Linked DNA regions of Homo sapiens. The protein of the gene in region 1 interacts with the protein of each later gene in a pairwise test. Each region holds a gene or a part of one and is shown in the gene's direction. Other genes may lie near its edges.

The links. The genes of interacting proteins can lie anywhere in the genome.
Region 2: the proteins of WBP11 (region 1) and GIGYF2 interact in a two-hybrid assay, tested with the Homo sapiens proteins (one study listed by IntAct).
Region 3: the proteins of WBP11 (region 1) and C5orf22 interact in binary tests that used the Homo sapiens proteins (3 or more experiments, as listed by UniProt).

The regions. Positions count from the first base shown.
Region 1 is NC_000012.12:14,793,451-14,800,478, reverse strand, and holds part of WBP11 (WW domain-binding protein 11), read left to right. Parts: intron 1-750; coding exon 751-844; intron 845-3,475; coding exon 3,476-3,672; intron 3,673-5,374; coding exon 5,375-5,508; intron 5,509-5,742; coding exon 5,743-5,942; intron 5,943-6,556; coding exon 6,557-6,748; intron 6,749-7,028. UniProt on the Homo sapiens protein: Activates pre-mRNA splicing. May inhibit PP1 phosphatase activity.
Region 2 is NC_000002.12:232,784,306-232,791,333, forward strand, and holds part of GIGYF2 (GRB10-interacting GYF protein 2), read left to right. Parts: intron 1-2,844; coding exon 2,845-3,024; intron 3,025-6,392; coding exon 6,393-6,610; intron 6,611-6,702; coding exon 6,703-6,865; intron 6,866-6,952; coding exon 6,953-7,028. UniProt on the Homo sapiens protein: Key component of the 4EHP-GYF2 complex, a multiprotein complex that acts as a repressor of translation initiation. In the 4EHP-GYF2 complex, acts as a factor that bridges EIF4E2 to ZFP36/TTP, linking translation repression with mRNA decay.
Region 3 is NC_000005.10:31,542,276-31,549,303, forward strand, and holds part of C5orf22 (UPF0489 protein C5orf22), read left to right. Parts: intron 1-3,370; coding exon 3,371-3,437; intron 3,438-6,214; coding exon of another isoform or gene 6,215-6,412; intron 6,413-7,028.

The DNA.
Region 1 (7,028 bases):
TAAAACATAACTGTTTTAAAGTCTACTGATGAGGATGGAAATAAACATGATGCTAGATAGCTTTATCCATTTTCCTGATTAGCTGTCTATTACATATATTACATTAGCTTAAATATATATATGTAGGTTTATAATATTTATAGATATATTAGATTTATATATCCATTTTCCCAATTAGCATTCTCCTCTTAGCTGTTGAATTTGTGGCAAAGTACTTCAAAAGAATTAGAAAGGATTTGCCTTATAGTATTGTGCTTTATAGTATTATAGTATAATACATTGAAGCAACACAGATTTTAAATAATGTTCGATTGTGTTTTCATGTTTAGCATTAACTCCTGCAAAATTTTTAAATATTCTTTATATAATTTTAGAATTTAGCTTCAACCTTTGCTTTGGACTTCAACTAGCAGAGGTTTTACAACAGGGGGCAGGAACAATCACCCAAGGTCTTCAAGAACATAAGGGGTTAAAAAAAAGAAATTTAAAGTGTATGTGTGTTTAAGTAACTGCTAAAGATCTCAGAGTTCAAAGAAATACTTTACTAAGAAAGCACATCTTAAAAATAGCATTTCTTTATCTTTTTGACAAGTGTAAACATTTTTAAGGCAAAAAATTACATAGCTGTTTCTGGTGGTTGAAACAAGTGATCAGAAGCCAAGGAGTTATTCTGTTTAGATTCTTAAAGCAAGTTGAAGTAAAACTCCTGAGTGCCTGACTTCTTGACATCTGCCCTTTTATTTTTCTAAGAACAAAAAACAGCGCATGATGGTTCGAGCTGCAGTTTTAAAGATGAAGGATCCAAAACAGATAATCCGAGACATGGAGAAATTGGATGAAATGGGTAAGAATTTACAAACAGGCAGCTATAACAGTCTGACACGTACAGAGGCAGGCAGGTAACGAGTGAAGCAGCATAGGCGTAAGTAAAACAGAACAGCATGATGGCATTTGATGCTTGGATTTAATGTTAGTTTCAGGGAGACAAAATGGAGTGCTAGAGGGCTGTTGCAAACTGGAGACCCCAGATACCAGAATAAGAGGGAAGCGATTATTTGGCTTTCAGTTAATTGTTATTGTGAGATAACAGAAGCACAGTTTGGCCAGCTTGCTTTTTGGGAGAAGACTTAATCTGATTTATGAAATAACCTTGGGTTTTTTGTTTGTCGTCTTTTATTTAATGTTGGCAACTACCATGTAAATCTAAGTATTAGGCCCCTGTGAATATAAGGCAATTTCCAATTTTTCCAATCAGAAGATCCAAAAAGATACTTATCCATTTAGTAAGGATATAGAAAAAAATCATCAAATACCTAAAAACCAAATAATAAAATACTATACCAGGATTCTCTGCCTTTTTCACATTTTATAGAATAGTTTTATTCACTCTTCATATGCATTTTAAGTATCGCTGCTTTGTTATAACTGGAATCACATGAAATAGCTGCATGTTATCTTTTTTTGCATCTAAGTTTGAAAATCATTGATGTTGCCACTGGAAATTTTATCCTAACCCACAAATATCCATTCTGTTTAATATTAGAACATGTAGAATATTTTGTTTTTTTAATAGAAATTTTCAAACATGCAAGAAAATAAAATAGTCTAGTTAACTTCCATGTGCTTTTCACCTGTCAAGTTTCTGCCACTTTGTCTTCTACCCTTTGCCACTTTTGTAAAATAGCATTTTAAAGTGATCGTTACAAGTTCCATGTTTTGCCCAAAAACAGAGTAGTAAGTAAAAGAGATGGAATGAAACTCCTCAATGATACATTAAATGGGGTACAAAAAAAAAATTCAGTCATGGCATTAGGCTATTACAAGGTTTCTGAAATAATGTGGGAGAATCTGTGCAGCTAGCCTGGCTAAGAGTTCTGGGTCAGGCTTCAGGATCCCAGATATTTCCCAGTTCAGTTGTAACTGATTCCACTTCCTGCCTCTGGTCTAAATATCAGCAGGGATAATTACTTTCCTTGGGGAATCAGGGAATCCTTCTTTAAATGACCCCAAATGTTATGTGTTGTTTTAAAAGGAGATAATAGGAATAACTGAGGTTTCTTGAGTAGTTGTCTTGCTATACACCTACGCACCAGTTTTTTTCCACCAGTTTTCTAATCGTCACAATTTTTTAGGGTAGGTGCACTGTCCCTATTATACAGGTAAGAAAACTCAGGCATGGAGAGATTACATAGCTTTCCTCAAGGTCACACTGCTATGTAGTGGCAAAGCTGAGATTAAAACTCAGGCATTCAGCGCTTTTACTAATCACACTAGGATTAGTATGGTGTAAGAATACGCCCTCTGGATTTGAATAAATTGCCAAGATTAATAATAGTTAATAGGATTTAAGGAAGAAGATAAATTTGTTATTCTTTTAAGAAAAAGGAAAGGGGTGAAGAGAATACTATTCATCAGGGGTCTAGTTACAATTTATAAAACTCAATACAGACTAGTTAAGGCAGAAAAAAGCATGCATTGGCTGTCTTAATTAAGAAGTCTTAACATAAAAAAAAGATGAGAAATCCCTGAGAGAAACTAGCCTCAAAATCCAGTCTCATCATCAGTACTGTCCATCTGTCTAGTCTGATGTCTGTTAGCCTCATTCAGCTTACTACTAATGAACTCCTTGGGATAGAAGGTGGAATATATGTGTGTAATTAGTGATGATTGAGAGACAAGGCCACAGGCAGCTCTAGGTTTGTTTTCTCTCTACATAACACATTCAGAAAGAAAATCTGAGAGCTTATCTCTCTCACATCTACATTTAAAATCTCAGGGAATGTTCTGGTCCCAGTTTGGATCATGTGCTAATTGATCTCTGAGTCATTCACTGAAAAGGAAGATGGGGGGATATGATTGACCAGGCAGGCCTGGAGGTCTTATTCTTGGGATAGAGGACCTGCAGTTAAGCCCCATATTGACACATGATTAGTTAGGGAGAGAAAGGATTGTATAGTAGCTAGGCCAGGAATACGGATCTGTTATAAAGATTATAGTTAAGTGGTGAGTCAAACACCACTGGATATTTTATTTGTAATCCCATTGTATCATCATAGCTTTATTACAAAGTGATTAACGTCTCCATTTTTTAGATGAGGAAGCAAAAAATCAGAGAATTCAAGTAAAATGCTTAAGATCTCAAAATTTGACAGGACTAACGTAGTAGGTAAACACAAATCTGACAGAATCTTCACGAGGTTTTCAGCACAGAGCAGTGAAAATTGATTTTTATTACAATGAAGATGAAAGTCAATTAGGTGGCATTTCTGAGAAAGGTAAAATTAGTGGCCATCTAAAAAGGGTGGGGATTTTAATAAATATTGTAGTTCTTCGAATAAAATTGAAAAGAGTATGTCTGGTGTCTAGATCTCTTAAAAATTTTTTAGCATATATGGAGGTTTTTATCATGTAACCTATTGATACCTAATTGAAGTGGCCTCTTATATTTAATTCCATAATCTACTTTTTCTCTTAGAGTTTAACCCAGTGCAACAGCCACAATTAAATGAGAAAGTACTGAAAGACAAGCGTAAAAAGCTGCGTGAAACCTTTGAACGTATTCTACGACTCTATGAAAAAGAGAATCCAGATATTTACAAAGAATTGAGAAAGCTAGAAGTAGAATATGAACAGAAGAGGGCTCAACTTAGCCAATATTTTGATGCTGTCAAGGTAATCAAGGTTTTTTTTTTGAGAGATAAACTAAAATATTATACAGATTGAGTATCCCTTATGCAAAGTGCTTGGGACCAGAAGTGTTTTGGATTTAGGGTTGTTGGGTTTTTTTTATATTTTGTTTTGTTTTTGTGTATATTTGCATATATTTTGGGGATGGAACCCTAGTCTAAGCATGAAATTTATGTTTCATATACACATAGCCTGAAGATAATTTTATAAATTTTGTGCATGAAACAAAACTACGACCCATCACATTAGGTCAGGTGTGGATTTTTCCACCATGGCATCATATGGGAGTCAAAAAGTTTAGGATTTTGGAGCATTTTAGATATTCAGATTAGGGATGCTCAGCCTATACTTAGATTTAAAAAGTTAATGGGAGAATGTCATGTTGAACCTCTTCCTTATAGCAGTTTCTTCTAAAACTAAACATATACCTACTGTGTGAACCTGCAAATCTAATCCTCTTTATTTAAACAGAAGAAATTAATTCAAAAACTTGGATCAGCCTAAGTGTTCACTAATAGGATAATGGATAATTAAACTGTAGCATATTTATACAATAGAATACTATTCAGCAATAAAAGGAATAATCTAATACTCAAAACAGCATGGAATAAAAAAAGAAAAATTGTGAGTAAATCTCAAAAACATGCTAAGTTTATCTCATTGTTATGATTTCATTTTTATGAAATTCTAGAATAGTCACAGATAATCTGTGCAGGAAAAAAAAATGTAGCCGTGGTTGCCTTGGGGGATGATATTAGAGATGGATTGGGAAGGAGTATGAGGTATATGCATTTGTCAAAACTTACTGAATTTGTAAATTTCGTAAATTTTACCTCAAAATAAAGATGGGAAAAAATCAAATGCTATAATTTCTGTAAAGGAGGTAATATGTCTCCCATTTTACAGATGAAGGCACAGGTTACCTTGCTTAGTCAAACTAAGCTAATACACAACAGAAATTCAACATAGGCAAGCTAATGAGCCCAACCTCCACCACTGGATATATACTATTTGTTAGTTGACATATATTATTTTTCTTTTTTTTGTTTATTTTTTGTTTTTGAGACCGAGTCTCACTCTGTTGCCCAAGCTGGAGTGCAGTGGCACCATCTTGGCTCACTGCAACCTCTGCCTCCCAGGTTCAAGCAATTCTCCTCCCTCAGCCTCCTGAGTAGCTGGGACTACAGGCACACGCCACCACAACTGGCTAATTTTTGTAGTTTTATTAGAGATGGAGTTTCACCATATTGGCCAGGCTGGTCTCAAACTCCTGAGCTTGTGATCGACCTGCGTCAGCCTCCCAAAATGCTCGGATTACAGGTGTGAGCTACCACGCCCAGCCTGACATGTATTTTTCTATCACATGTTAAATAGGGTAGTTCTGGTGCTAGATACTTGTAACAGTTGGCTTTCTCTAGACAACAGCTGTTTCGAATCATCCAAAAAGAATTACCTGATAAGAGGAGAAAAAAAACAGCTGGGTTCTGACGTTTTTAGAAGTAAAGATTTCTTTCAGTTCTTTGACAATGTGGAAGTATTGACGTAAGGTTATTTTTCTGGGGGTTTTTGGTGATATTTATGTTAGTTGGAAAGCATGTCCAAGTTACGAAACAGCTGACTTGTCATTTTTAGTGTTTAGTTAGTAGATGACTTTTTTATCATACTACTGAATGGTTCTCTGTTTCAGAATGCTCAGCATGTGGAAGTGGAGAGTATTCCTTTGCCAGATATGCCACATGCTCCTTCCAACATTTTGATCCAGGACATTCCACTTCCTGGTGCCCAGCCACCCTCTATCCTAAAGAAAACCTCAGCCTATGGGTAAGGAAGCAGTGTCACAATCAGAGAGCATTTAGTAAAGGCACAAGTTGACTGTCCAGTGCCAAAATTAATGCAGAGGGAAATAAAAGACAATATGGATGTAAACAGTGTGACATTTGATTAAATGTAAAATAAGAAATCCCTTGAAAATTGTTTAGAAGAGAAAATAAATATCTCATTACTGTTAAGTGATTACTGTGGGGGTTTTTTTGTTTTTGTTTTTTTTTTTAACAGACCTCCAACTCGGGCAGTTTCTATCCTTCCTCTTCTTGGACATGGTGTTCCACGTTTGCCCCCTGGCAGAAAACCTCCTGGCCCTCCCCCTGGTCCACCTCCTCCTCAAGTCGTGCAGATGTATGGCCGTAAAGTGGGTTTTGCCCTAGATCTTCCCCCTCGTAGGCGAGATGAAGACATGTTATATAGTCCTGAACTTGGTGAGAAGTGACTGTTCTTTTGCTTTTATAACTATCATTTTTTATGTTGGCCCTGTTTAACATATTGTTCACCACCCTCAGAACTTAGAAAGTAAATGAGAGGGTATCATGTACATAACTAATATACATACAGTTGGATAAATCATAGGATCTTCTCAAGTAAAAGCATCATACATAAGTATAGAAATGTTTATCGTGTTTTAAATTAGGCTTTTCCTGGAGATGTCACTCTTGCTGCTAATCCTTTAAGACTTGTATATCTGGTTCCCTTTTAGCTTTATTGTCATCAGACTAGAGCGTCATTGTATACATTCACTGACTGTGTATGTGTATACAAACATGATTGTTGCTAAAGGAGGAAATGGGTTTTCAAATTAGAACTCTTTTTAAAAAAATCTTAAATTACCAAAAAGAAGTGTTTAAAATTATTGGCAGAGGAAAATTTTGTTAGACTGTATGAGTAGCTATATATACAAGAATTTTTTTTTTTTTTTTTTGGTAAGAATTAAGTTGTTACAGTCTGAGTTGAATAGCATAATTTTCTGTATTTCTGGGTACCATGTAGTGGAGGGTCCAATCATACTACTTCTCCATGTTCCCTTCCCACTTTTCAGCCCAGCGAGGTCATGATGATGATGTTTCTAGCACCAGTGAAGATGATGGCTATCCTGAGGACATGGATCAAGATAAGCATGATGACAGTACTGATGACAGTGACACCGACAAATCAGATGGAGAAAGTGACGGGGATGAATTTGTGCACCGTGATAATGGTGAGAGAGACAACAATGAAGAAAAGAAGTCAGGTATGTGCAGATGAAGGATTCATGGTATTGATCAATAAAGAGAAAACAAGCTGAAGGTCCTAATTTATTAATGAATCTGTGAGAGTACTCTGAAATCTTTGGAAGTCGGGATCATAGCTGTGTTCATCTTATATATTAAAATTTTGAAAGTTTTTGACACAGTAAGTACTCAGTGGATGTTTATGAGGAAAAGCATTAAACTGTATGTAATAAAAATGTCTATGTAATAAAGTTCACTTTGGGGTAAAAGGTATAACTATTCAACAGCATAAACGTATTA
Region 2 (7,028 bases), on another chromosome or scaffold:
ATTAAATAAAATGAAATTTTAAATTTAGCTGAGTGTGGTGGCATGTGCCTGAGGTTCTAGCTACTTACACGAAATAATTTCTTTTTTTTTTTTTTTTTTTTTGAGACGGAGTCTTGCTCTGTCACCCAGGCTGGAGAGCAGTGGCGTGATCTGGGCTCACTGCAAGCTCCACCTCCCAGGTTCATGCCATTCTCCTGCCTCAGCCTCCTGAGTAGCTTGGGACTACAGGCGCCCGCCACCGCGCCCGGCTAATTTTTTCTATTTTTAGTAGAGATGGGGTTTCATCGTGTTAGCTTGATCTGACCTCGTGATCTGCCCGCCTTAGCCTCCCAAAGTGCTGGGATTACAGGTGTGAGCCACCGCGCCTGGCCACAAAATAATTTATAAAAGCTGCAATATGGTTTTTGATATATCAGATATTACATAATAACTACAATAGATTTAGATTATGACTTCTCTGGTAAACCAAGTGATATAGTTTGGATGTTTGTCCCCTCCAGATCACATGTTGAAATGTGATCGCCAGTGTTGGAGGTGGGGCCTGGTGGGAGGTGTTTGGGTCATGAGGGTGGATCCCTCATCCCCTCCCCACTGTAATGAGTTCAAGAGTCTGGGATCTCTGTCATCTTTCTTGCTCCCTCTCTCACCATGTGACATACTTGCTCTCACTTCACCTTCCACAATGAGTAACAGCTTCCTGAGGTCTCACTGGAAGCCAGACAGATGCTGGTGCCATGCTTGTATAGTCTGCAGAACCACGAGCCAAATAAACAACTTCTTCTTCTTTTTTTTTTTTTAATAAATTACCCAGCCTCAGGTATTCCTTTATAGCCATGCAAAATGGACTAATAAACCAAGGAAAGCCAGAATATAGTTCTGACATTCCAGACACGTCCTGCAGGTAAGAGCAAGGTCATAGATAATAAAACCCTTGCTTGGTGGTTCAAAACAGCAAACATTTATTATCTCAGTTTCTGTGGGTTGGGAATCTAGAAGCAGCTTAGCCTAGCTGGGTGGTTCTGGCCCAGGGTTCTTGTAAGGCTGCACTCAAGGTGTCAGCCCATGCTGCAGTCTCTCAAAGCTCAACTGGGGTTTGATCCACTTCCAGACTCACTCATGTTTCTGGTGGTAAGTCTCAGTTCTTTGCCATGCAAGCTTCTCCACGAGGTCTGTGTCACTACATGGCAACTAGTGTCCTTCAGAGAAAGTGTCCAAGATGGAAACTACAGTCTTCTTTAATATTTTAAGTGGCATCTCATCACTTCAGCTGCATTCTGTTAGTCCAGCTTATAATTGGGGGTAGAGGATTCCACAGAGATCAGCAGTCAGGGATTGTTGGTGAGCTCTTAGAGGCTGTCCACCACAATAAGAAAGCAGCAGATCATGTCTTCCATTCTCCCAAGATATTTTATCTTTCAGTAGAATGATACCTAGTAGCAGACTAACAACCATATGGACAAGCAGGATGCTGAATCTCAATATATGTAAGATGGAATATAACAGAATGACCAGAAATTAGAATTTCATTTTCATATGCTGTTGTTCAATTATTTTTTCACTTTTAGTATGGATTAATTAAAAGGATTGAGTTTGTCATTATGAGAACTTGAACTTTTATTGTTATAAACTGAGGACATCAATGTATGTTATTCTGGATTTTCAACTATTTTGATGTGAGATTTTATAAATGTTATGAGTTATATATGTTAGCACATGTGGAATGGTGACTGAAGAATTTGTTTGCACAATTTAGAATGATCTTGTCCTTTTAAAATACCAGTTTAGTTTACTTGGTATACCAGGCTCTCTTTTGACATTAATGTAACTTTTGAGACATTAGGTTAGACATAGCTTAGCTTTAAATTCTGTCCAAAAGCAATTTATGGTATGCCTGTATTGTATTAGGTGCTAGAGTAAATGAGGTTATACTACTTTTCAATTTTTTTTTTTGAGACGGAGTCTTGCTCTGTCACCCAGGCTGGAGTACAGTGTCGCGATCTCTGCTTACCGCGACCTCCGCCTCCTGGGTTCAAGCCATTCTCCTGCCTCAGCCTCCTGAGTAGCTGGGATTACAGGCACTTGTCACCACACCCAGCTAATTTTTGTATTTTGAGTAGACATGAGGTTTCACCACATTGGCCAGGCTGGTCTCCCAACTCCTGACCTCGTGATCCACCTGTCTCGGCCTCCCAAAGTGCTGGGATTATAGGCGTGAGCCACCACGCGGCCTGCTTTTCAGTTTATAATCTGTTTTGGAATGAAAGACGGCCTGAAATGTACAGATATCATGTTTAGGCAGAATCACCAGTAGGTGTTGGTTATATAAAGTATGTTGTATGATGAAAAATATCTTATAACTTTAAAAAGTATGTGCTAGTAAGGAAGGATTGGCAAGATACACTGTTAGTGAAAACAGCAAACAAAACAACATTTATAACATCCTGAGGGTGGCGTTTGTGTGTGTGGATGAGGGAGCTATGTATACATGTGTAAGTGTACCCATGGACAGTGTTTGGAAAGACTTTATAAGAAACTTGGTGATGGTTCCTTCTGGGGAGTACGACTCTGAGGGTCTTGTGTAGGAAGATGGACTTTTCATTGTACGCTTTTTCAAAAAAAATTTTACATAATATTTTTGTTTAAAAAAATTGCCCAGTCTCTGAACATGGCTTTAAGAAATGTGTCTAATAATATATACATATACCCACTGTTATTTTAGTGATTTTTTTCTGAATATTGAAATGGACCCATTTGCAGGAAAGCTTGATTTGAGCTGTGAAGTTTGTTTTCAAAGCCTATACTGGCAGAGGCTCATGTTTACTTACCATATTATTTTCTTTATAGGGAGACCAAATTTTGAGGAAGGTGGACCAACATCAGTAGGGAGAAAGCATGAATTTATACGCTCAGAAAGTGAAAATTGGCGCATCTTTAGAGAGGAACAAAATGGAGAAGATGAAGATGGAGGTTGGCGACTAGCTGGATCAAGGAGGGATGGAGAGAGGTGGCGACCTCACAGTCCTGGTAAGAATTCTGTTGAGTAAAGGCACACAGGGACTGAAATAAGGGAAAGTTTGATGGAAATAGGGATTAAATGAAAAAGATAAACTGGCTTAAAAAATGTGGGGGTGGATTCATATTATTTATGCTGTCACAGTTTTATTACTAGAAAAAATTGCAACATAAAAATTTCCTACATCTATTCAGTTGATTGAAATCACTTTTCTATTTTTCTGGGGCAAATAGTGTAGTTTAATGGGAAGCACCTGCGCTCAACTGCAGAAATGAGGGTTTCATTCAGTTTTGTCTACCTCTAAATCTCTGAATCTTTTTTAGCATTCTTTAAGATTTATAAATGTGTAAAAATTACACACTTGAAATATGTGCTTCCCTCCCCAACAATGAGTGTTTTTCCTAACAAGAAAGGGTTTATTCTTTCATTTTTTCCCTTTTGAAAATGTGATTTAACCTTATTTGAAGAATAAGCTTTAAACCTAGGTCAGAAACATAATCACAAGTTCATTCTTATGTCCTTCTAACTTTAGAAGAAGGAGAGACAATAGTAGTGATTAGTGGCTTTTAAAGTTCTTCTGTTTGTCTCTTAAAAATGCTCAAACTGTTCTTCTTGGACATTAGATATGCTAGTAATTGAAGACACTAGTGCTTTGTGTTAAAGTTCATCCTGTACCACAGTGCTGATTCCATGCCTCATGATAATCAGATGCAACTGTAGTTCCAATTGTGGGGTCATGCAAAACTGAAGCACACAGAGTATATGTGGAATGCCCTATGAATTTCATGTGTATGACAGTATTTTATCAACCATGTGCCAGAGGGGCTTACCTTTAATACAGGAAATTATGATAAGTAAACTGTTTTCACTTTTAAAAATCAAGTTATTAGCAAAACCACTAGCTTAGATCTGGGTAGACATTATAACAGGCATTCAGAGTATTTTAAGGAAGTGGTAGGTAGATAGAAACATACTGAAGTTAATGTTTGGGTAGAGTTAGGATGGTTTTATACCAACTCTTCATGGCTGCCTCTTGGGTGGGTTTTCTGTCATTAGTGGGCATTGTTTACATCACAAGGTCTAGACAATTTTCATTAGTCTGTGACCTGGGCCAGATGTTATAGTTCTCTAAAAGGCATCACTGCATTTTATGCTGAGCTTGTCCGTAGGCAGAGGGTTTGTAGACTATGTTCCCAACAAGCATTCAGTGAAGAATGGATAGGATCTGGGCTGAGAGAGAAAAGAAATTCCAGCTGGTCAAAAACAAACAAGGTGAATGTTTTGGAAGATGAACTGTGTTTTTTGAGCCCAAATGTCTGATGTTGATTCTATTAAAGGGAGTTTAACAAAGTACCTCCCACCCAACAACTTAGAATTTGGTTATATATTATCTTCTTCTCATCTTTTCTGAATCTTTCTTTCCCCCTAATATTTGACTTTCATATCATTTTTGTCATCAACTTGTGTATCTTCCAGAACTTTTAATCCATATACATATATATTTTTTCAGTCACACCTGTGGCTGAAATCCATATATTTTTAAAAGACAGTTTGGGGGATATAAAGATCCCCCAAATATAAAGTTTGGGTCTGAAAAAACAGTGTAAATGCATTTTAAAAAAGAATACGATTCACTTTTTAAACCCAGTATATTCAAAGTATAGCCTGATTATAGCAGTTTTCATATGTTAACTCTTAACGTTTGTTAGTTTATGGTTAATCTTTTATTAAGATTTGAGTAAAACTTTAAATTATTTTAACTGATTTTATGAAAATAGTATCCAACTTTAGTTTAGATGTAGGGTCTGTAAATCAGCAGTCAGCCTTAATAAGTACCTTGCATGTCTTACTTGCTATGTTTAGTTTCGTGAGTAAAATTTTATGAACTACTGATAAGATAACATTATGGGATATAAAATAGGGCTTCCGGCTGGATGTGCGTGGGGGTGGGAACATTAAGGACAGGGAGGCATCCAGTCTGGGAGCTGAACCTAGGAAAGTCAGTAAGAGGAGAAACATGAGCCAGGTACCTAGAAGGATAGATTCCTGTCATGATGTACATTTAGACTGTTAGAAATGAAAGCAGTACAGAGGGCTCTGGAATTCATTTGATCATGAAGACTCTTTTCACATAATGGCTCTAGGTTTCCACGTAAGCAGTCTGAGTATAAAATTCCTTAGTTCTCATAGGAAGTAGTAAATAGTGTTTTGTTGTTTTTATATGAAGGGATGGGAGTGTGGGACTAAGATTTCTTTTTTGTGAGTGGCTTATCAGATGCTACCTGTATTTGGCATTTTAACGTTTTGCCCTTTGTTTTCCAATTTGATTTTTAGATTGCTGGTTTTTGCAAAGTTTGTCTCAATAGTGAGAACATTTAACTCTGGCCACATTTCTTTTTCTTATCCCCCACAGAGAAAGCAGTCAAGGATGGAAAATTCTAATAGGTTAAAGCCTGCTTTTCTTTTTAAGACTCTTTTAGACTCAGGTCTGTCAGATTTTAGCAAGAGTTTCCCTTTCTTTTTTTTAGAAAAATATCTTAAGTAGGATCTCTTATTATTAGGCAATCTTTTCTTCTGTTGGGAAATGTAGATTTGGGAATGTCCGTAGGGGTATTATATGGATAGGGAGAATTAAGAGATGAGAAAGAAGGGAGAGGAGTAAGTATGTTATTGTGGAACAAGCAGCAGAGGGTGCAGAATTGGATTTTAGTTCTACTTTGCCATGTGCGAGTTACTTCTGCTGGCAAAGTTTTAGTTTCTTCTTAAACTATAAAATTAGGATAGTGAACTTCATAAAATCTCTGTGACAACTTTCAGCACTGTAATTTTGTGAATTTTTGGGGGAGGATCAGAATTACAAGTGGGAACCTGGCATTAATAAATAGTCATGATGAGTTTGATATAAGTCAACACAGGGAGCTGATTTTATCCACAAACAATGATATTTTCATGGGAAGAAAGAAAATGCTTTAAGATTGGGCAAAAGGAAGGTGTAAACTTCAGTATGGAAGGATGTCTAGTGCATTAAGTCTGGATGAGGAGTTGGCGGCTAATCAGTATTTTAATCAAGTACCTAGGACTTACTGAAAGTGCGTACTTGGAATACAGTGTCCTTTAAATGTACTGCATTTTAGATTTATCTTTTAAAGCTTTAGAGTATGTTGCCTGGCTCAGTACTTAAGTACTGTTGTCATCTCGTAATGGTACATATACTCTGAACTCTGAACTTCATTTAGTTGCCTAATGTTCTCTTTACTAGGTCAGTCCATTTGAGTTTGCGGTCACTTGTAGTTTTCTCCTTTATTTTCTATTCCTGATTTTCTTATTCAAATACTGTCATAAAACTTTTCTAAGGTTTGTGTCCTCCTTCTCATCTCAGATGGCCCTCGTTCTGCAGGCTGGCGGGAACACATGGAACGACGTCGGAGGTTTGAGTTTGATTTTCGAGATAGAGATGATGAACGGGGTTACCGAAGGGTTCGCTCTGGCAGTGGGAGCATAGATGATGACAGGGATAGCTTGCCCGAATGGTGCTTAGAGGATGCTGAAGAAGAAATGGGTACATTTGACTCATCTGGAGCATTCCTTTCTCTAAAAGTAAGAAACGTGTTTTAAATGTCATGACCAGCATTAACCTTATACCAAAGCCAAATCTGCTGTTGATCTTTGGTTTTATTCTCTTTCTACAGAAAGTACAGAAAGAGCCTATTCCAGAAGAGCAGGAGATGGACTTCCGGCCTGTGGACGAAGGGGAGGAGTGCTCTGACTCTGAGGGTAGCCATAATGAAGAGGCCAAAGAACCCGATAAGACAAATAAGAAAGAAGGAGAGAAAACAGATAGAGTAGGAGTTGGTAAGGCCTCTTCTTGCCCTTTGCCTTTTTTTTCCTCCATCAAACCAAAACTTTCGTAAGTTCAACTAAGATTACTTCGTGTTCCAGAAGCTAGTGAGGAAACTCCCCAGACCTCATCATCATCTGCTAGACCAGGTACTCCTTCAGACCATCAGTCTCAGGA
Region 3 (7,028 bases), on another chromosome or scaffold:
CAGTCTCTACTAAAAATACCAAAAAAAAAAAAAAATTAGCCGGGCATAGTGGTGGGCGCCTGTAGTCCCAGCTACTCGGGAGACTGAGGCAGGAAAATGGCGTGAATCCGGGAGGCGGAGCTTGCAGTGAGCCGAGATTGCATCACTGCACTCCAGCCTGTGGAGACTGGACTTTTTCTGAGACTCCGTCTCAAAAAAAAAAAGCGAAAACTTAGCTTCTTTTAAGGAAAACCCAAACACAAGTGGAAGGGTATTTTCAATCTCTTGACGTGAAGGAGCAGTATTTGAAGGCTAGATTCTCCATCAGGTAATTTATTTGACTGGCTGTTCATATCACCTTGAAAGAATGGAGAGAGAAGTTCTTTTTGAGTGAAAGCCTTTGGTATTGAAGCTGGAGTGAAAGAATATTGACATAAATATTACAGTGATTTTTCTCTAAAATAATTCTTAAATCATGTAATCTCAAACAGCCAGAAAACTAAAATAAAACCATCAGACAAACTTTTTGTCCCCATGAGCATAGGAAAACCAGAACTAGCTTATTTTAAAACTAATCTCCCACGAACTGTCATATTATTCTCTCTGGTGTAAACAAAAGAAAATCAGTTGTAAGGTAGCAAGATAAAACGGGAAATTAGAATCAATAGTACTTTAGGCCAGAACATGAACAGCCACTAAGATTTGTCATGTTTTGGTTATTAAAAATAATTCAGCAGATCTCTAGAAGAATATGGAAAAAGCTGAAACAGTGGTTGCCTCTGGGGAGAGGAATTCTATGGCTAAATGATGAAGTATATGAGTGAGAAATTACTTCTTTTGCTATGTGCACGTATTATCTATTCAAAATACTCATTGTAATTTTTACTTAAAATATTCAGAAACATCCCTAAAATGTAAACATCATAAAGCTTTAATTATTGACACTAACAAAGCAGTGATGTGGAAGAATAATTCACAGTAATATTAATCACATCAGTAAGTATTGATTAGGCACTTTAACATCAGTTAATGGCCGGGCGTGGTGGCTCACCTCTGTAATCTGAGCACTTTGGGAGGCCAAGGTGGGCAGATCGCCTGAGCTCAGGAGTTCGAGACCAGCCTGGGTGACATGGTGAAATCCTGTCTCTACAAAAAAATACAAAAAATTAGCCAGGCATGGTGGCATGCACCTGCGGCCCCAGCTACTTGGGAGGCTGAGGTGGGAGGATCACTTGAGCCTGGGAGGTCAAGGCTGCAGTGAGCTGAGATCGCACCACTGCTCTCCAGCCTGGGTGACAGAGGGAGACCCTGTCTCAAAAAAAGAAAGAAAAAAAAATCAGTTAATGCTTTTTCCTCTTCAGTATAGGGTTCTAAAATGATTCCCTGTTTTTTGAAATGATAGAAGAGGGAGATAGAAAAATAAGTCACAGGACAGGAGTCTTCCTAGAAATACTGAAAAATACCTATTATTTTGTTATTTCATGAAGTCTCAAGCTAAGTTTAAAACTTCAACAACAACAAAATAGGCCTGGAAACCTTGGAATCCTAAGTCCAGCCCACAGACTTCCACTGAAACCCACTCTGCCTACTGAGCATGCCCAGTTAGCTCCTCATCACCAGCAGAGAGTTCTATCACAGACTTGAAAATATGATGAGACTGCAACAGTAGTGAGTTTAGACTGTGCTTGGTATTGAAGGGAGAAAAAAAATAGCATAAAGGAAAAGTAGATGACACTGAAAGAAAAGTCTCCCCAAACCAACCATGACCCTAAAGAGCCAGACCCTCGGCATGGAGGCTTCGCTATGTCTAGGGAAGTGAGGTGGGTGTTTAGGGTCCAGAAGCCTAGAAAATGTCATTAATTAAAAGGAAAAAGTAACAGGACAAGTGGGCAAGCAGGCAGGCCTCCATGCCTCCTTTTTTCTTTCTTTTTTTACTCCCAGCAAATTCGTGAATATTTGTGGAGGAGGAATTAAAACACTAGAAGCATTAGCCAATCAGAGCTTCCAAAAGGTCCACCTAAACTTAATACCTTAAAAGCATCAATGTGGCCGGGCGCGATGGCTCACGCCTGTAATCCCAGCACTTTGGGAGGCCAAGGCGGGCGGATCATGAGGTCAGGAGATCGAAACCATCCTGGCTAACACGGTGAAACCCCGTCTCTACTAAAAAATAAAAAAAATTAGCCGGGCGTGGTGGCGGGCACCTGTAGTCCCAGCTACTTGGGAGGCTGAGGCAGGAGAATGGCGTGAACCTGGAAGGCGGAGCTTGCAGTGAGCCGAGATCGTGCCACTGCACTCCAGCCTGGGCAACAGAGTGAGACTCTTGTCTCAAAAAAAAAAAAAATGCATCAATGTTATATCAGATGATGTAGGATTTTTCCGATTATAATTGTATTTACTGGCTAGGCCTGGGTTCACACCTGTAAAATCCCAACACTTGGGAGGCTAAGGTGGAAGGCTTACTTGAGGCCAAGAGTTAAGACCAGTCTGGGCAACATAGCAAGACCCTATCTCTACAAAAAGATTTTAAAATTAGTTGGGTGTGGTGGTGTTCACTTATAGTCCCAGCTACTCGGGAGGCTGAAGTGGGAGATTCCTTAAGCCCAGGAGTTCGAGGCTGCAGTGAGCCATGATCACACCACTGCCCTGTAGCCTGGGTGGTAGTGAGATCCTGTCTCAATAGTAATAATAATTGTATATACAAATAAACGTGTCCTTAATTTTTTTTTTTTTTTTTTAGCTTTCAGGAAACAGCCTTTTTTCATCACAGTGTGCTAAAAACACTTAGTTTTCTTGCTAATCAAAATAATTTTTTTTTTTTTTGAGACAGTTTCACTCTTGTCACCCTGGCTGGAGTGCAATGGTGCGGCCTCAGCTCACTGCAAACTCCGCCTCCTGGGTTCAAGCAATTCTCCTGCCTCAGCCTCCCGAATAGCTGGGATTACAGGCATGCACCACCACACCTGGCTAATTTTGTATTTTTAGTCGAGACAGGGTTTCACCACATTGGCCAGGCTGGTCTCGAACTCCTGACTTCAAGTGATCCGCCCGCCTCGGCCTCCCAAAGTGCTGGGATTATAGGCATGAGCCACCGCACCTGGCCTCAAAATAATTTTTAAAGTCAGTAGAACTTCCCATTTTTGAAGAAGAAATCTCATTTTCTTGAATGCTCACTTTTAGTCTTTAACACAATGTGTAATCTTTTGGGTAAGAAAACAGGAAACATTTATTTCTTAATATTTTAAGATATTTGAACAGCTTTATCTTTTATTTCCCAAGTGCCATATGAAGCATGTTATTATGGTAAATGTTAGTATAATGTATAATTTGCTATTATCATTTTAGTTGTGGTGGTTGTGATGTTTAATTGAGTGGGATGGCTTTTTTCCAGAATGGAATCACTAGTTCCCCTTGTACAGAGTTTGAAAAAACGGATGGAAGTACCAGACTATGAAATGGTAAATATTTTATATTAATGTGTAAAATTGACCCTTTGTAAAGACAATTTTCTGGGTAGAAGAATTTCCTTTTTGTTAAAGTGGTTCGTTTTTGTTTGTGTTCCTGTGAAGTCTGAAACAATTATTAAGAAAAGAAATGAGTGAAAAAAATACATACGTTGAAACAGAATACTGTTTTCCTGGAAAAGTCTTCCAGGAAAAACTTTTTTTTCTCAATTTTATGTATGAAGCAAAAGTCCTGTGTGTTTTTTGTAATTTTGTCTGTGGTCGGATCTCTCTTCACCAGACAAAAGAAAAGTACACAATTTCTAAAATGGTCCATTTTTTATTGATGAGTATTTATACTGCCTTCTGCCTTCCTTCTTTTCCTCCCTATTTAAAAACTTTTCCGTTTGTAAAAACCACAAGACAAAGAAAAAAGAGAGAGCTGTGACTAGCACATTTTAAATGTGTTAGCTGTTTGTCAACAGGTATCTGAATGCTATGGCCAAAGATACTTTTAGTCATAATTTATTTGTATATCATTTTGCAGTCTTTGAAGCATATATTTTCCCATTTGACCTGGTACTTGAGATGAGAAAGCTATAGCTTAAAATGTTCAAGTGACTTTTCTCAGATTTGATGCCAGGGCTAAGACTTCCAAGTCTCCTTCCTCTTAGTGTGGTCTTTCTCTTACTTCAGTAAGCTGGGTTTGCATATTTTATTTACTTATGGAATACAGTCAGACCACTGTGTTTGACTAAAGTTGAAGTATTGATTTAAGTATTGATTGAATTTATAAGAATTTGCTGGTACTCTTTAAAATAAGAGATGTCTATTTTCACACTGCTGATAAAGACATACCTGAGACTGGGCAATTTACAAAAGAGATTTAATGGACTTACAGTTCCATATGATTGGGGAGACCTCATAGTCATGGCGGAAGGTGAAAGGCAGGTCTCACATGGTGGCAGACAAGAGAGAGAGCTTGTGCAGGGAGACTTTTGTTTTTAAAACTGTGAGATCTCGTGAGACTCATTCACTATCATGAGAACAGCACAGGAAAGACCCACCCCTACAATTCAATCACCTCCCATCGGCTTCCTCCCACTACATGTGGGAATTGTGGGGGTTACAATTCAAGATGAGATTTGGATGGGGACACAGCCACACCATATCATTCCATCCTTAGCCCCTCCCAAATCTCCTGTTCTCGAATTTCAAAACCAATCCTGCCTTCCCAACAGTCCCTCAAAGTCTTAACTTATTTCAGCATTAACTCAAAAGTCCACAGTCCAACATCTCATCTGAGACAAGGCAAGTCCCTTCCACCTATGAGCCTGTAAAATCAAAAGCAAGTTAGTTACTTCCTAGATACAATGGATGTACAAGAATTGGGTAAATACAACCGTTCTAAATGGGAGGAATTGGCCCAAAGGGGCAGTGCAAGTCTGAAGTCCATCAGGGCAGTCAAATCTTAAAGCTCCAAAACGATCGTCTTTGACTCCATGTCTCACATCCAGGTCACGCTGATGCAAGAGGTGGGTTCGCATTGTCTTGGGCAGTTCTGCCCCTGTGGCTTTGCGGGATACAACCTCCCTCCTGGCTGTTTTCATGAGCTGGTGTTGAGTGTCTGCAGCTTTTCCAGGCACACAGTACAAGCTGTCAGTGGATCTACCATTCTGGGATCTGGAGGACGGACAGTGGCCCTCTTCTCACAGCTCCACTAGGCAGTGCCCCTAGGGACTCTCAGTGGGGATCCGACCCCACATTTCCCTTCCACACTGCCCTAGCAGGGGTTCTCCATGAGGGGCCTGCCCCTGCAGCAAACTTCTGCCTGGGCATCCAGGTGTTTCCATACATCTTCTGAAATCTGGGCAGAGGTTCCCAAACCTCAATTCTTGACTTCTGTGCACTCACAGGCTTGATCAACACCACAAGGAAGCTGCCAAGGCCATCCTCTGAAACCACAGCCCGAGCTCTATGTTGGCCCCTTTTAGCCATGGCTGGAATGGCTGAGACACAGGACACCAAGTCCCTAGGCTGTACACAGCACTGGGACCCTGGGCCCTGCCCATGGAACAATTTTTTCCTCCTAAATCTTCAGGCCTGTGATGGGAGGGGCTACCGCAAAGGTCTCTGACATGCCCCAGATACATTTTCCCTATTGTCTTGGGGATTAACATTTGGCTCCTCGTTACTTATGCAAATTTCTGCAGCCAGCTTGAATTTCTCCTCAAAAAATGGAATTTTCTTTTCTTTAACATTGTCAGGCTGCAAATTTTCCAAACTTTTATGCCCTGTTTCTCTCTTAAAACTGAATGCCTTGGCCAGGCACAGTGGTTCACGCCTATAATCCCAGCACTTTGGGAGGCCAAGGCTGGCGGATCATTTGAGGCCAGGAGTTCAAGACCAACCTGGCCAACATGTTGAAACCCCGTCTCTACTAAAAATACAAAACTTAGCTGGGTGTGGCAGTGCACACCTGTAATCCTAGCTACTCAGGAGGTTAAGGCAGAGAATCGCTTGAACCTGAGAGGCAAAGGCTGCAGTGAGCCGAGATGGTACCACTGCACTCCAGCTTGGGTGACAGAGCGAGACTCCATTTCAAAAAAAAAAAAAACTGGATGCCTTTAACAGCACCCATGTCACCTCTTGAATGCTTTGCTGCTTGGCAGTTTCTTCCACCAGATATGCTAAATCATCTCTCAACTTCAAAGTTCCACACATCTCTAGGGCAGGGGCAAAATGCCACCAGTCTCTTTGCTAAAATATAACAAGAGTCACCTTTGTTCCAGTTCCCAGCAAGTTCTTCATCTCCATCTGAGACCACCTCAGCCTGGATTTCATTGTCCATGTCATTATCAGCATTTTGGTCCAAGCCATTCAACAAGTCTCTAGGAAGTTCCAAACTGTCCAACATTTCCCTGCCTTCTTCTGAGCCCTCCAAACTGTTCCAACCTCTGCCAGTTCCAAAGTTGCTTCCACATTTTCAGGTATCTTTTCAACAGTGCTCCACTCTACTGGTACCAATTTACTGTATTAGTCTGTTTTCACGCTGCTGATAAAGACATACCCAAGACTGGGCAATTTACAAAAGAAAGAGATTTAATGGACTTAGTGTTCCACATGATTGGAGAGGCCTCACAATCATGGCAGAAGGTGAAAGGCACATCTCACATGGCAGCAGACAAGAAGAGAGAGCTTGTGCAGCGAGACTTGTGTTTTTAAAACCATCAGATCTCCAGCCGGGCATAGTGGCTCACATCTGTAATCCCAGCATTTTGGGAGGCCGAAGCGAGCAGATCACCTGAGATCGGGAGTTCGAGACCAGCCTGACCAGCATGGAGAAACCCCATCTCTATGAAAAACACAAAATTAGCCGGGCGTGGTGGCGCATCCCTGTAATCCCAGCTACTCGGGAGGCTGAGGCAAGAGAATCGCTTGAACCCAGGAGGTGGAGTTTGCAGTGAGCCAAGATCATGCCATTGTACTCCAGCCTGGGCAAAAAGAGTGAAACTCTGTCTCAAAAAAAGTAAATAAATAAAACTGTCAGATCTCCTGATACTCATTCGCTATCATGAGAACAGTGCAGGAAAGACCCACCCCCAC